Regions from separate parts of the Homo sapiens genome. Here region 2 is linked to region 1. Evidence: fine-mapped expression QTL. Tissue or cell type: whole blood. Region 1 holds a variant in brackets; the other region holds the start of a gene. All regions are shown on one strand. Distances are between the middles of the regions.

Region 1 (8,102 bases):
CCAGGGAAGGGAACTCCTACCCTAGACCCCACCTGCCCCACATCAGACCTCCTGGCAGCAGGCTTTTTTTTTTTTTCTTTTTTGAGATGGAGTTTCACTCCCGTTGCCCAGGCTGGAGTGCAATGGCGTGATCTCGGCTCATTGCAACCTCTGCCCTCTGGGTTCAAGTGATTCTCCTGCTTCAGCCTCCCAAGTAGCTGGGATTACAGGCACCAGGCACCACACCCAGCTAATTTTTGTATTTTTAGTAGAGACAGGGTTTCACCATGTTGGCCAGGCTAGTCTTGAACTCCTGACCTCAGGTGATCTACCTGCCTTGGCCTCCCAAAATGCTGGGATTACAGGCATGGGCCACCAAGCCCGGCCAGAATCTTTTTCTTCTATGCGCTAGTAGGCCTGAGGTCTTACCTTTCTCACCTACAAAAGCCCATCTAGAGCAGTCCTCCACATGGGGCACCCCCTGCCCTGCCGAGCAGAGGCAGGCCCCAGAAGGGACGTGTGTTGAGGGCAGCCCTTCCCTCCTGGGGGTGGCCCTTAGTTCTGCAGGTCCGAGTCTCCTTAGGGGCAGGCTCGCTCCCCAGCCCCTTCTCAAGCCAAGGGCAGATCTGACCAGCCCCAAGAGGGGATCGAGGAATCTTTGGGGCAAGACAGCAGAGCTTCTTTGGGGAAAAGGGACTTGAGGACTCACCTCACTGCTTCCCTTAAGAAGGGAGATGGGCTTCCGGGGAGCTGGGAGTCCCCAACATCTAGTGACAGGGGGGCACCAAGAGGGCAGCTCTCACGTTTTCTGTGAGTTTGTGCCTTTTCTGAGGTTTTCCTCAGACTCTCAAAGGGGTCCCTGCTGGCGACCCCTTGGGAAGAAGTTACCTCACTGTCCCTTCTCCCCTCCCCATGCAAGACACTGTCCTTTCTCAGGGAGCAGCCTGAGAAGCCTCACTGCCTGGGGGCGGGCGCCCTCTGCCGGTTGAGGGCTGGCCCAGGTCTGGCTCAGCCCACGGGGCGCTGCTGGCAGTAGGGCTGGTCGGGGAGACACATGGGGCTGGACAGGTGTGTGGGGCCTGACCTAAGCTCCTTCTCCAAAGGCAGAGAAGGCACTGAGGTGGGACATGAGTCCCAGGGGTGGGGCCTGCCGCTGACAGTGTGTGGCTGTGGGGGTCCAGAGGCACATGACCTCAAAAGAGTTTGTTTCAATTCAGACAGGCAAGGGCTAGAGTACACATTTTGTATTTAAAAAACAGAGGACATAGCTAAAATATTTATAGAGGATCGACCCCATGGTTTTTTGTCAGCCCCACAGCAAGGAACCAGAACTTGGTTTTGCAAAAATCAATATGCTTACATAGCCCTGCTGAGAGACAGGGCAACAGCCCAAGGCCTGGCTCCCCGGCACTGTAGGCAGCTGTTGCTAGGAACAGGGGCATCAGATCCCAGCATGGCAGGGAGAGCTTCACTTTGCTTGCTGCCACCATTTGTTGAGCACTTGCTAAATGCCAGGCACTGTGCAAAGAGCATTTTCCCCACACAGGTAGGATTAGAAAGTAGTAGTCCTCTTATCTTCTCTAATGGATGGAAAAACTGAGGCTCAGGATGGGAAGGTAACTTGTCCAAATAACACACAGGAAGATTAAAAGTAGAACACCTCATTTCTCAAAGCAGCAGAAAAACAAGTATGTTCCAAAACTACCAATGGAGAAAAATTTGCATGCTGTAAACTAACAGTTCATTAAATTCTGTTTAAGGCTGGATGCGGTGGCTCACGCCGGTAATCCCAGCACTTCAGGAGGCTGAGACTGGCAGATCACCGGAGGTCAGGAGTTCAAGACCAGACTGGCCAACATGGCGAAACCCCGTCTCTACAAAAAATGTAAAAATTAGCTGGGCGTGATGGCACAAGGCCTGTAATCCCAGCTAATGGGGAGGCTGAGGCAGGAGAATCACTTGAACCCAGGAGGCAGAGGTTGCAGTGAGTCAAGATCATGCCACTGCACTCCAGCCTGGGCGACAGAGACTCTGTCTCAAAAAAAAAAAAAAAAAAAAGAAAGAAAGAAAACAATGGAAAATTCCAGAAATAAACAATTCCTAAGTTTTAAGTTGCACACCATTCTGAGCAGTGTGATGTAGTCTTCTGCCATCCCACTTGGGACACAAATCATTCCCTTTGTCTGTCATGTCCACGCCGCATATGTGATCCACCCTATACTATGTGATTGTATAGAGAAAAACAGCATACATATATGGTTTGGCAGTTTCCAAGGTTTCAGACATCCACTGGGGGGTCTTGGAGCATAACCTCATGAATAAGGTGGGACTCCTGCAGTTGCGACAGAGACCAGACAGTCTTCAAAACCTAAAATATTTGTATTTTTCAGTACAGGAAAAGCTTGTCAACCCCTGGTCTACACACCTGGTTATCTTGGACCATCCTGCCCCAGACTTCCTCCGTAACAACCCATATAATGTTTCTATGACCATAGACGTAAAAGGAAACTGTGACCTTTACCAAAATAAGCAACTTATTTTTCACAAATTACTTATGTAATAAGCATCCTGTTTCCAAAACAGACCTCAGTTTTCAGGTCCGTTTTGAATTGACATTTGTCACACTGCTGACTCCTTTGTTACTGAGTGAACGATATATTCTTGAGACCAATTTTTCTAAGAAATGTTATTTTAGCACATGTTCCATGGAAAGGAGGGTTTACGTTTCCAAAATACAGATGTGACAAAGAGGAAGCACATCTGATGGCCAATGAGGAGAAACAACAGAGTGGATCCTGAGGCCTCCCGTGTCCTTTCAGCCTCCCTCTGCTACTCCCACTGCTGGCCACACCAGCCTCAGGGAGGGACTGCCATGTGCACTTTCCACGGCAGCTCATTTAACTCTTGCAGGAAACCCAAGAGGCATGTTGTGTTTCTGTCTCTGCTTTACTGACAAGGACAGGGAAGCCCAGGGAGTGAGGCGTCTCACCCAGGTCAGTGTCGGCGCACACAGGAGGCAACCAGGGCATGTGGCAGGGCCCCACAGGACACCAGGGCCTCTCAAACCCACTACCCTTTCAGGCCCCTCTGCTGCTCACCATTGGTGAAGTGGGGCTGTCAGGAGCAAAGAGAATTTCTGGATTTTCTCCTAACATTTTCCCCTACTTTAACCTCCCTTCATCTGTTGAATTTACTGCAAATCTTTCCTAGTCTTTTAGTTTTCCTATACTTAAAAAAACCTTGTTTTTAAAAATTACATAATTAGGCCAGGCACAGTGGCTCATGCCTATAATCCCAGCACTTTGGGAGGCTGTGGGCGGATCACCTGAGGTCAGGAGTTCGAGACCAGCCTGGCCAACATGGTGAAACCGTCTCTACTAAAAATACAAAAATTAGCTGGGCATGGTGGCACGTGCTTGTAATTCCAGCTATTCAGGAGGCTGAGGCAGGAGAATCACTTGAACCCAGGAGGCAGAGGTTGCAGTGAGACGAGATCACGCCATTGCACTCTAGCCAAGGCGACAGAGTGAGACTCCATCTCAAAAAAATACACACACACACACACACACACACAAAGTTAGCCAGCCGTGGTGGCACACACCTGTAATCCCAGTTAGTTGGGAGGCTTAGGTGGGAGAATAGCTGGAACCCATGAAGCAGAGGTTGCGTGAGCTGCGATCGTGCCACTGCACTCCAGCCTGCAGCCTGGGTAACAGAGTGACACTCTGTCTCAAAAAAAAAAAAAAAATTTTTTTTTAATTATATAAGCTCATGGTGAAAAATATCAGCATTATGGAATATAAAATTAAATGTCTCCTGTAATCCTAGCACTTTGGGAGGCTGAGGC[G/A]GTGGTTCATTGAAGGCCAGAAGTTTGAGACCAGCCTGGCCAACATGCTGAAACCCCATCCCTACTAAAAACACACAAAAAATTAGCCAGGCCTAGTGGTGGGCACCTGTAATCCCAGCTACTTGGGAGGCTGAGGCAGGAGAATCACTTGAACCTGGGAGGCGGACGTCGCAGTGAACTGAGATCGCACCACTGCACTCCAGCCTGGGTGACTGAACAAGACTCCGCCTCAAACAAACAAACAAGTCTCACCCACCCTCTAAAATAATTCCCATTTTCCAAGTCCATCAGACACTACAGATAGGGAAGGAAAACTTATTCCATTGGACACCCACAGATATATCTTTATCATCTTATAAACACTTAAAATGTATTCAAACCTTTTGTGCATACTTTCATCATATTGTAGGAAAGTTCTCCCAAAGAGACAGGTGTATGGGGGTGCTGTTTTCTTTCTCAGAATGTAAAAGGGATTTATGAAAACAAAACTGTTCGTGCTCAAAATATTCTGGGTTTCTACTAGAAACTAAATCCATTTTCCAACCACAAGGCATTCCATATCAAATCAGCAGCCTGCACTCTTCCTGCTCTTTATGAGAATTCCTACCTAAATCAGTCATCTTTGGTTTAGCTCCAAAGTTTATCAACTCATCTTCATCTTCACTGAAATTTTCCAGAGGAAGTGGAGCAATAACCTCTAGCCACCCAGGGCCCCTCAGAAGCCCTGGCTGTAGGTTTCCCATCATTGCTTCCTGAAGGGAATCCATGTGCTAGACAAGAAGTCACTTTATTGCCCGTGAGACTTGGGAGAGGCCTTCCAGAGATCTGGCCAGGCTCAGCCACTATCTTCTTCCCCAGCCTCTCCCTGTAGTAGCGGGTGGGGGTGCCAGTGTAAACAAGGGCCCCCATGTGGGCTGAGATGGGAACAATAGGACAGAAGGTAGGAGAAGGCAGCAGCTGGGTGGACTTGGTGGCTGGAGATGGGGTTCTACATGCCATCCTCGTCCTGCGTAAGCCAAAGGGGACTGGCACTGAAAGCTAGGCTGGGCAGGCCGAGGTGAGAATGGGAGTGCACGCAGCCTCAGCAGGGCAGCCTCTAAAGGGCTTTCCTGGAGAAAGGGGCTATGTCTACTGCCATCAGTGAAGGAACTGGCCCCAGCAGGCGGCAGGGCCTATGGCAGGGGAGGGTCCTCTGGGCACATCTAGACTTGAGAGTCCTCCCACTTCCCACTGAAACAATTCCCTGCTGCTCAATCTCACTGCCATATGCAAAAACAAGCAAACAGGAACACTTAAAAGTGGGTCGATCAAATGCTTGAGTTTATTAACATGTCTCCCAAGTCTTTTTTACTGGGAGTTTCAGGGTGGTCTCTGAAATCCATTGCTGTTGAGCTCCAACTCCAGGCCCCATGGGGTTGCACCAAGCTGCTCAACCTCACCTGTTTCTTGAAATTTTGCTGCCTTCCACTAGGCAGATGGGTCCAGCAGGAGACATTGGAGCACCAAATGGAAAAGCTCTTCCTTCCTTCCCCTCTTCCTGTACATCAGAAAGAATGCATTAGAAACTCAAGGAGTGAGCATTTGGGCTTCCTAAGGGTGAGACAGTGTGGGGCTCCTGTGGGGAGATGGGTACTCCTGTACCCAGTGTGGCCTCCTGCTCCCACCGCTTTCCAGCTGTGGGGCTTTTCCTTGTGGAAATTACTGTCCAAGTTTGATTTTTCCATCTGTAAAAGGAGGCAAGTAAGGGTTGGTATGAGGATCAAATGAATTAACAATTATCAGACTGACACAAACATTCCACTTAAACAGCCAAATTGACTTAAAAGGGCAACATAGATGTCTGAAGCCAGACTGCCTGGTGGGCAAGCTGGAGAAAGCAACTTCTATGCAAGAACTGTGTCCTTTCAGAAGCTCCAGCCAGAGCGTACGTGGTTGGAGAGAGCCCTGAAGACAGGCCTTGCCCCACACAAACACAGAACAAATTGTTCTCCACCCCCTCCCAAAACAAAACAAAAGCAGTGAAGAGCCACAGAGTGATGACCACTACAACGGATACAGGATTGCTGAGCCCTTCCACGTGCCAGGGGCTGGGCAAAGAATTTCATATTCATTAACTTATTTCTCACCTCAACTCTGTGAGACATGCACTCTTCCCCCACTGACAGATTCGGAGGAGGGGAGGAACTTGCCAAAGAACACACAACTGCACATGGTGGAGCTGGAATTTGAGACCAAGTGGACCACTAAGCTACCTGCCAAATTGAGTTGCAGAAACCCCAAAGGAGGCATAGAACACGGTTTCCAATAAACAAGAGCTCATGTGGGCACTTCCTAATGACAGAAGCTAACTGTCCAAGAGCACGACTGTCTTGGGACAGGAGATCATGCTGCAGAGCCCAGGGAGGTCCGCCCTGCGCAGAGAGGGAGTGCAGACCTAAAGAGAGCCACACTCTGTGAAAAGTGGAAAAACCTACAGATTGATCCCACCTGTTCAGAGCAACAGGCACGGCTTCACTCGGGACCACATGTGCCCAGGGGCTCCACAGGGCTGGGTCCTGGCTCTGGCCATCTCTGCACAGCCTCTGCTGGGCCACTCTGTGAGAGGTCACGCTGGCAGCAAGATCTCAGCCTCTGCTCCTTTCCCTAGTACAGTTTGATCTCTGAATTCACTTTGATCTTTTACCAGTTCGGCTTCACCTCTTGCACCAAAGCTGTGATTTCTCAGGGCAAGTTGTCAGCTTTCCCGTATGCAGTGTTTTTCTAGGTGGATTGTTTCTGATGTGGTTTCCTCTGATGCAGGTGAGGGAAGTATCATCTTGACTCCTCCACCAATAAAATTATTCTCACAGGGCTTTACTAAACATGAGACTTGGGAGGGACCCAAGAGCTTGCTTGGCTGCAGATTCAAGGGTCCAGGACTCAGAAAAAAGTGGTCTGAGGCCGTCTAGAAATAGGCACAGATACTTCCAGGATGCATGTAACAATACCAAGTTCTCTGAGCAGTAGCTACTGCCTGCCAAATAATCCTCCTTGAGAAATACTGATCAATCTTGCTTTATTCCAGAAAGAATTTAAGACTGCTTATAGAAAATACGAGGGAGCATAGTTTAAAAAGTGTGAAGTCCTCCTCCAAAACATGTGCTAACCACTAATATCAACATTAAGGATAGCCCGGGCGCGGTGGCTCACGCCTGTAATCCCAGCACTTTGGGAGGCCGAGGCGGGCGGATCACGAGGTCAGGAGATCGAGACCATCCTAACACGGTGAAACCCTGCCTCTACTAAAAAATACAAAAAATCAGCCGGGCGTGGTGGCAGGCGCCTGTAGTCCCAGCTACTCGGGAGGCTGAGGCGGGAGAATGGCATGAACCCCGGAGGCGGAGCTTGCAGTGAGCCAAGATTGTGCCACTGCACTCCAGCCTGGGTGACAGAGCAAGACTGTCTCAAAAAAAAAAACCAAAAAACAAAAACATTAAGGATTTTGGCCGGGCACGGTGGCTCATGCCTGTAATCCCAGCACTTGGGGAGGCTGAGGCTGGTGTTCAAGACCAGCCTGACCAACATGGTGAAACCCCATCTCCACTAAAAATACGAAAAATAGCTGAGCGTGGTGGCGCATGTCTGTAATCCTAGCTACCTGGGAGGCTGAGGAAGAAGAATCACTTGAACCTGGGAGGCAGAGGTTGCAGTGAGCCAAGATTGCGCCAATGCACTCCAGCCTGGGCAACAGGGTGACTCTGTCTCAAAACAAGCCAACAAAAAAATAATAAGGATTCTTCAGATATCTGAGTCCAGGTCCTCATGTCCACTGTGTCTAACTCAACTTATTACTGTGCAGACTGAGGCAATCCAGCCCTAAAAATCCTCTCCTCTCAAGCTCCTGGACGGGACTCTAGTGAGGGCAGAACTGCTGGGCTGGTAATTCCTCTTGGTGGAGACAAAGGAACATGGGACTACGGGCAATAAGTTACTTATCAGTCTTCACTAGAGGTTGTTTCTCTCAACTAAAGTTATCAAAATTGGGTGTTGTAATTTTTAACTTGATATTCCCAGACAAGTGCCAGGAGAGAAGCTGTTGCAAATGCTGAGTGGAGAGGAGAAAGCCTCAGCAGAGAGGCGAGCTGGAGGGAGGGATGGATGCTATCCTTCTCTGGACTGAAGCAGTTACAGGATGGCTGCACAGAGTACTCCTGGCAGGCAGAAGGGGGCGTGGGGACCCAGACACTTAAGATGCATGGGTTTGGGGTACCCATTCCAGGCCTCATGTCCGCTGTAT
Region 2 (8,100 bases), 98 kb after region 1:
CTTGCTCTGTTGTCCAGGCAGGACTTCAGTGGCAGGATCACAGCTCACTGCAGCCTTGAACTCCTGTGCTCAAGCGATCTTCCTGCCTCAGCCTCCTGAGTAGCAAGAATTACAGGCTCAAGCCACCACACCCAGCCTGATTCTTGCATTTGAAGGATTTTTTAACATAATATGGCCCTAAATATAAGCCAGCTACTTCATCTGGTGCTACACCCAGAAAACAGCAATTTTCTCCAATGCTGAGATCTGAAAAGGATTTCCAAGAGTAATTTTGACTATACAGAAATTTTGCCTTAGTGATTGACTTTAGAACCTACTTCCCATTCCAAATAAAATGCAACTCTACTGCATGCCATAGCATACACAAATATATCTATAACCTATAATCATAGATATAACTGGGTGATGAACATGCATAGTGACCTTGTTTTTAATTTATTTTCTAATATTTTTTCAATTTACAAATATTGCTTTCATAAGAAGAAAAAGCACTATGTAGGCCATGTGTGGTGGCTCACATCTGTAATCCCAGCACTTTGAGAGGCTGAGGCAGAAGGATCCCTTGAGCCCAGGAGTTCAAGACTAGCCTGAGCAACACAGAGGGACCCTATCTCTACAAAATAAAAAAAATGTTTTTTTAAAAAAAGAACTTCTATTTAGGCGGGGCGCAGTGGCTCACGCCTGTAATCCCAGTACTTTGGGAGGCCAAGGTGGGAGGATGACTTGAGGTCAGGAGTTCGAGACAAGCCTGGCCAACATGGTGAAACTCCATCTCTATGAAAAACACACACACACAAAATTAGCTGGGCATGGTGGTGCACACCTATAGTCCTAGCTACTCGGGAGGCTGAGGCAGGAGAATCGCTTAAACCCGGGAGGTAGCAGTTGCAGTGAGCCGAGATCAAGCCACTGCACTGCAGCCCAAGAGACAGAGTGAGACTCCATCAAAAAAAAAAAAAGCTCTATTTTTAATTGTCCTTTCAACATTCATCAGAGAATGCTAGATCTGGTATCAACAGTCCTCTACTTCACCTAAAACAATGCTACACCTATAGTGTATTATCAATTGTTAATAAACTTACTCATGCAGCAAATTCTTTCAGCCTATTACTCTGTTCTGTTTTAAACAATTTCTTAATTCAGAAACATGTAACTCAAGCTATGCATCTTTTCAACAAGAATTAAGGTCATTTTTATTTCTATTAAGAGTCACTTAAATCTGTATGAAATTAAAAAAAATTTATTTTAATTTTTAAAAATTTTCAAAATAAGGTACCTGAACATCATAGAGTGCTACAATATTTTCATGCTGAAGTTCCTATTAAGAAAATTGAGAATGAAAAATATGTAAGTATTCTAATGACTTTACTATATTTTAATATGTAAATAAAATTAAAGTATACACATACACTTCTAGTATTATACTTATATTAAGACTATAAAAATTCAATTAAAGAATAAGAAATGTGCCTGATCAAACAAAAAGCACATTATCTCACTGAAAGAAAATATGATTTTTAGCTCAAAGAGCTACAATTCTTAAAAAAGAGCTCTCCACAGGAAGCAGTTTTGAGGAAATCGGGTGTTAAATGAGGGTTCCACGCTTGTATTAGTTTGGAAAACACCAGGTTAAGTACTTTGAAACAAGTTTCTTCATTGTAGAATTTTTCAGACTTTCTTTAATGAGCCATAGGCTTTGTGACTCTCCAAGAAGTATTTAGTAAATGGGGTTTTCCAAACGTACTCAACCATCTTCTCAAACCATCCCACTTAGATAACACTGGTTGTGAGTGATCTAAAAAGGCCACCTCCAAGGAATATAACTTTCTTCAATTTAAAGAAAGACCCCAAGCACCCCTACTCCCCCCAAAAAACTTAGTAGTAACATGAAAGGGGACAACAGGAGAGGTAAAAACAATGTACAAGATGGGTCTGCCTGGCCCTCTTCTCAAACAACAACACAGTCACTAGGAAAAAGAGAAATGATGAGAAGCTAAACTCAGTCTTCACAGAATCCCTCTGAGCTTTGGTTCTTAAAAATAGCTTCCGAGTACTCAATGTTTTAAAAAAGTGAGCATGCAAAAAGGAGAGCAACAGTTGAAAATTCTCAAACTTGGACCCAACTACCAAAATTGAAAAGGATGGCAGCATGTATTCATTTAAATTAAGTTTTAACCTTATATGAATACTACTACATAAAGTAACATACCTTTAAGATTTTAATTTCCTTTCCAAGCAGTATTTGTGATTTTGACAAGTTCTTTTTATTAATACTTTTAATAGCTACCTCCCAATCAGTTTTCTGAAAAGGAAAAACAGTGTTACTCCTAGATACCATTCCACATAAATAACAGAAAAAAATTTACAAGCGCGAAGGTGTTTTTGGCAAATAAATGTACGGCATTGGGGAAAAATGGAATTATTTTCAATAATTGGAAAGTGATTTCATAAATTATAGTGCAATATGCCAAGATCCTACAACACAACTTCTAAAAATAACAAATATGAAGTCCACATGGTAACTAACATTAAATGAAAAAAGAACAGTTCACAACCACTTCAAAGTTATGGACAAATGTAGAAATAAACTTGGAAGGTGATACAGTTAATTGAAAAGTTATTTGTTAGCTTGGAAGGATTACACCGTGCTTGAGTTCTAAATTATTTTCCTAATAAATGAAAAGTAGGCCGGGAGCCGTGGCTCACACCTGTAATCCCAGCACTTTGGGAGGCTGAGGCGGGCAGATCGGATCACCTGAGGTCAGGAGTTCAAGACCACACTGGCCAACGTGGTGAAACCCCATCTCTACTAAAAATACAAAAAAAAAAAAATTAGGCGGGCGTGGTGGCGGGCACCTGTAATCCCAGCTACTCAGGAGGCTGAGGCAGGAGAATCGCTTGAGCCCGGGAGGCAGCGGTTGCAGTGAGCGGAGATCTCGCCACGGCACTCCAGCCTCGGCGACAAAGCGAGACTCTGTCTCAAAAATAAATAAATAAATAAATAAGAAAAGTAGCATTACTTCATCCGATAAGCAACAAAGTCAGCCCACTTTTAACACGCCCCTTGGGCAACAATCAGAACTGCCACACCCTTTAAGATTATTTCCACTCCCGATATGCCTTTCCAAATTCTTTAGATTCTAAAACCTCGTGTAACTGTACTTGCGAAACAGCAAAGGCTTAAAACAATTTTTTTAAGGCTTAAAGGTGATTTCATGTTCAAGGTGATTGAAAATGAATTGTCCAACCACCTTTCTCACCCGGAGCTCGTCTATCTGACTCCGGGGGGGAAAACGGTACGGGGGCTCTTCGGGGTGCAGGGGACCAGTGCTGGGAAAGGTGACACCTCCCAGGCTGCGAAAGCCTGAGGCTAATGGGACATCCGCCCATTTTCCGCTGGGTCTGTAATTATCAACCTCAAAAGTGACCAGCCCTGGGCACGGGGAAAAAAACCAAAGGTCCATTCACGCCCAACCCTCGAGTCTGCACGGTGCAGTACCGTCTATTTTGGGTCCAGGGTAACCTGGGTGCAAACGCTCCTGCGGGCGGACCGCGGGGTGGGCCCCGGGCACACAGGAGGATCAGCAGCAGCCGGTCGGTAGGCGGAGCGCTGCCAGAGGCTTGGGCCTCACAACAACCCTCACAGGACCAAAACAAACGGCGAGACGGGCTGCGCGCACAATAGCATACCCGGGCGGCTAGCCGAGTCGGGGGTCTCGGCTCGCGGCTGCGCCAAGTTTCAGAACCACCTAGCCCCGTGCCTGCCGCCCGGGGCCCGGCCTCGCCCCGGCCGGCGCTCACCTGGCGGTGCCGCCCCCGGAAGACCACGGCGAAGGCCCCGTGTCCCACGAGATCCCTCTTGCTGTACTCGAAGTCACCCACCACCTCCATGGCCGCGCCCCCGGGGCACACAGCGGACGGGCGGGCGGCGCAGTGCGGCGCAGGTATCAGCACCGCGGCTCCGCGGGCCCGGAGCGCGCCAGCGTGCGGCGGGTCTGGGGCAGCCGCAGCCCCGGGCCCGGGCGGACTCTCATGCCGAGAGACCGGAGCGGAAACTGGGGAAGCTGCCGCGCGGAGCCAGGGTCAGCGAGGCCCGGCCCGGCCCCTGCCGCTCATGGCCCGGCCTGCCGCCGGCCGCTGGCTGTCTGGCGAAGCGGCCTCGGCGCTGCCGGGCCAGGGGTGCCGTCACCGTCACTGTGCGCGCCCAGAGCCGCACACGCGCTCTGAGGCAGTGAGGGGCCCGGTACTCTCCATCCCCAGCTCGTCGGGCCTCCTCGGCCCTCCCCGCTCGGGGCGCTGCTGCGACGGCGACGGCCGCCGCCCTAGAACCCGCACCGCCGCGGCCCCGCGCTTCCCCGCCTCGCGGCGGCGCCCAACGCCCTCGCGCGCGCTACCCGCTCCCGCGCGACTGGCTGCCCTCCGCGACGTCCGCGCGCCTTGAAGGCCGCAGCGCCAGCCGGCTCCCTCCGCCGGGGAAAGGAGTGCGGCCAGGGCTTGGCGCCCGCAGCTGGGCAGATCCTCGGCCGCTCCTGAGGCGGGGACGAAGGGCGCGACCCGCTGCGGCCACAGCGGGTTACGGGCTGCGGGCTCCGTTCTGGGCCTGGGGAGCAGATTCGAGCCGACCACGCCCCGGGCTCCAGGCCGCTGGGAGGCGGACTTCAGAGAAGCGGGTCTTGAACCCCAGCTGCAGGCAGGACGGGATTATCTGCGCAGGGTAGACCCCCAGATTCCTGCCAGAGCAAAGGAGCAACTGCTACTCCAGGCTTTGCCCGCGCTCTGGAAAACCAGAGTTCACGCTGCCAAACTGCCAGCCTTCGGACGCCTCTCGGGGTTTACTCGCTTAGGATCCCTAGAGGGACGGTGACAGGCGGGATTCTGCACCTTTTGGGGGTCCCTTGACTGCGAGAAGCTGGTGACAGCTCAGGGCCCTCTTCGCAGAGAATCGTTTCTGCACACCGACTCAGAATCGCACACGTTTTCAAGGTTCTCCTGGGAGCTCCTAGTGTCAGGCTAGTTTGACCTCGGGCTTACTTCACATGGCCGAAGGGAGCTTTCTTTTCTACCTGATTGTTAAAGCTGTCCAAGTGACAAGGAACAGATTGTCAGGTTTCCCGCAAAGAAGTGTCTTATGAAACCATTTAATAAACAATATGCTTGAAACTACCATGGAATACGCAGGCTCCACACTTGAGTGTGTGTTCGGTTGTATAGGGTATGTGCTTTTGGGGTCTGTCACCACCTCGACTGCCACTGCCTGTCCCTGCAAGCTGATCTCTGAACCATGACAGAGTCAGCTCCAGGATTCTGAGAGAACGCTCCTTCCTCACACGCTCAAAACGTAGGGCCTTGAGTTTCTGCTTCTGCTACTGTGCACGCTTACGTTATCCTGTCCTTACTTACATCTGGCCCAGGTGGTTGTGTTAGACACTGAAAATCTGGAGCCTTCAAAAGTTGACAGCAACTTAAGCAAGTTTGCACATACACCCAAAAATGGATGGAGATGATTCCTTACCTCACTGAAAGATTCTCTACAGTCTATTTTTTTGTTTACTTTTTTTTTTTTTTTTTTTTTTGAGACAGAATCTTACTCTGTCACCCAGGCTGGAGTGCGGTAGCACAATCTTGGTTCACTGCAACCTCTGCCTCCCAAGTGCAAGTGATTCTGCTGCCTGAGCCTCCCAAGCAGCTAGAATTACAGGCACGCACCACCACGCCCAGCTAATTTTTGTATCTTAGTAGAGATGGGGTTTCACCATGTTGGCCAGGCTGGTCTCAAACTCCCAACTTCAAGGGATCAGCCTGTCTCGGCCTCTCAAAGTGCTGGGATTACAGGCGTGAGCCACCACGCCCGGCCTGTTTTTTGTTTTGAGACAGAGTCTTGCTCTGTTGCCCAGGCTGGAGTGCAATGGCATGATCTCGGCCCACTGCAGCCTCCGCCTCCTGGGTTCAAGTGATTCTCCTGCCTCAGCCTCCCAAGTATCTGGGATTGCAGACCTGCACCACCATGCCCGGCTAATTTTTTTTTTTTTAGTAGAGGTGGGGTTTCACCATGTTGGCTAGGCTGGTCTCAAAACTCCCAACTTCAAGCGATCCGCCCACTTCGGCCTCCCAAAGTGCTGGGATTATAGGTGTGAGCCACCTCACCTAGCCACATGAAGGTTTTTTGTTTGTTTGTTTGTTTGTTTTGAGACGGAGTCTTGCTCTGTCGCCCAGACTGGAGTGCAGTGGCACGATCTCAGCTCACTGCAAGCTCTGCCTCCCGGGTTCACGCCATTCTCCTGCCTCAGCCTCCGGAGTAACTGGGACTACAGGCACCCGCCACCACGCCCGGTTAATTTTTTGTATGTTTTTAGTAGAGACGGGGTTTCACCGTGTTAGCCAGGACAGTCTCCATCTCCTGACCTCGTGATCCGCCCACCTCGGCCTACCAAAGTGCTGGGATTACAGGCGTGAGCCACTGCGCCCGGCCACATGAAGGTATTTTTCAGAAACCTCCAATAGGCCCTTCGTTTGGACATGCGTGTCCTGTATTCACAGGCCAAACATGGGCCCCATGGACATATCCATTTGAAAAGCAAAATGTGCAGGATTTCTGACCTCAAGAGTCAGAAAAGAAGTGGGGGCAGGAGGCAGGGGGTGCTTTGCTAAAAAATGTTTAGTTAGGACTATGTTGGTAGCAAATAGCAAACGTCAAATGTGATAAAGTGAAAAATAAAGAATGTAGATAAAGATACAGGTGTGCTTCTCAGAGTTCAAAGTTGGGCTTCAAAAGCAAACTACCCGCAGAACCAGGATCTCAAAGAGAACTGCCTTCCGTCTGTGCCCCTGCTTTGTTCTCTTGCCTGAGATCTCCTACATGGTGGCAATGGCAGCCCCAGTCTCCAAACCAAATTTTTTTTTTTTTTGAGACGAAGTCTTGCTCTGTCGCCCAGGGTGGAGTACAGTGTTACGATCTCGGCTCACCGCAACCTCCGCCTTCCAGGTTCAAGCGATTCTCCTGCCTCAGCCTCCCAAGTAGCTGGGATTACAGTTGCGTGCCACTGCACCTAGCTAAAATTTTTTTTGCTTTTTTAGTAGAGGCGGGGTTTCACCATGTTGGCCAGGCTGATCTTGAACCCCTGACCTTAGGTAACCCGCCTGCCTCGGCCTCCCAAAGTGCTAAGATTACAGGCGTGAGCCACTGGGCCCAGCCACCAAATTCTTAAGGAGGGGATTCTGATCAACCTAACTTCAGCTGGGTGCTGGGCCCTGAACAATCATCGGAAGCCAGGAATGGGACTGAGGAAGGCAGGATCATGTAACTATGGCTGCCCCCAACACAAGCCTGTGGGTGTTCTGAGTCCCCAGAAGCAGGGGCCACATAGGCACCCCAGGAAGTGTTCACCCTAGGTCAAATTTAGGCTTCATTTGAGAATGGAGGCCAGGGCAGATTTCTAGTTTACCTCTAAAATCACTGGAAATTGCCAATTTGATTCATGTTCATTGTTCTTAATTTGTCCTGTGTGTGCATATGCATGTGTGTCTAAACATGCTTAACTGTTGAAATGTTTCAATACCAGTTAGTAAATAGAAAAACAGTAACTGCAATGAGAGGTAAAATTAATTACTAATATAGGCCAGGCACAGGGGCTCACGCCTATAATCCCAGCACTTTGGGAGACTGAGGTGGGTGGATCACCTGAGGTCAGGAGTTCCAGACCAGCCTGGCCAACATGGTGAAACCCCATCTCTACTAAAAGTACAAAAAGTAGCCGAGCGTGGTGGTGTGTGCCTGTAATCCCAGCTACTCGGGAGGCTAAGGCAGGAGAATCACTTGAACCTAGGAGGCGGAGGTTGCAGTGAACCAAGATTGCACCATTGCACTCCAGCTTGGATGAGAGGAGCAAAAATCCATCTCACACACATGCACACACACACACACACACACACACACACACACACACACTAGCCAGGTGTGGTGACATTCGCCTGTAATCCTAGCTACTCGGGAGGCTGAGGCAGGAAAGTTGCTTGAACCCGGGAGGCAGAGGTTGTGGTGAACCGGGATCGCACCACTGCACTCCAGCCTAGGTGACAAATGAGACACTGTCTTAAAAAAAA

The links. PIP is the estimated chance that this variant, and not a neighbour inherited with it, causes the effect.
Region 2: ULK2 starts here. The variant in region 1 is fine-mapped to the expression of ULK2 in whole blood (TOPMed, PIP 0.98).

Annotation. Positions count from the first base shown.
Region 1 is chr17:19,765,705-19,773,806 of GRCh38, forward strand. ULK2 (unc-51 like autophagy activating kinase 2) reads right to left here. Exons shown (of 27, transcript NM_014683.4): 27 at 5,126-8,102. Among named protein-coding and RNA genes, the nearest start is that of ALDH3A1, 21 kb to the left of the region's middle. RefSeq lists an enhancer at 1,060-1,209. The variant G/A (reference allele first, on the strand shown) is at 3,827.
Region 2 is chr17:19,863,527-19,871,626 of GRCh38, forward strand. ULK2 (unc-51 like autophagy activating kinase 2) reads right to left here and starts at 4,410. Exons shown (of 27, transcript NM_014683.4): 1 at 3,802-4,410; 2 at 2,210-2,302; 3 at 1,277-1,318. The coding sequence starts at 3,891. RefSeq lists an enhancer at 3,527-4,035 and silencers at 3,614-3,793, 3,874-4,463.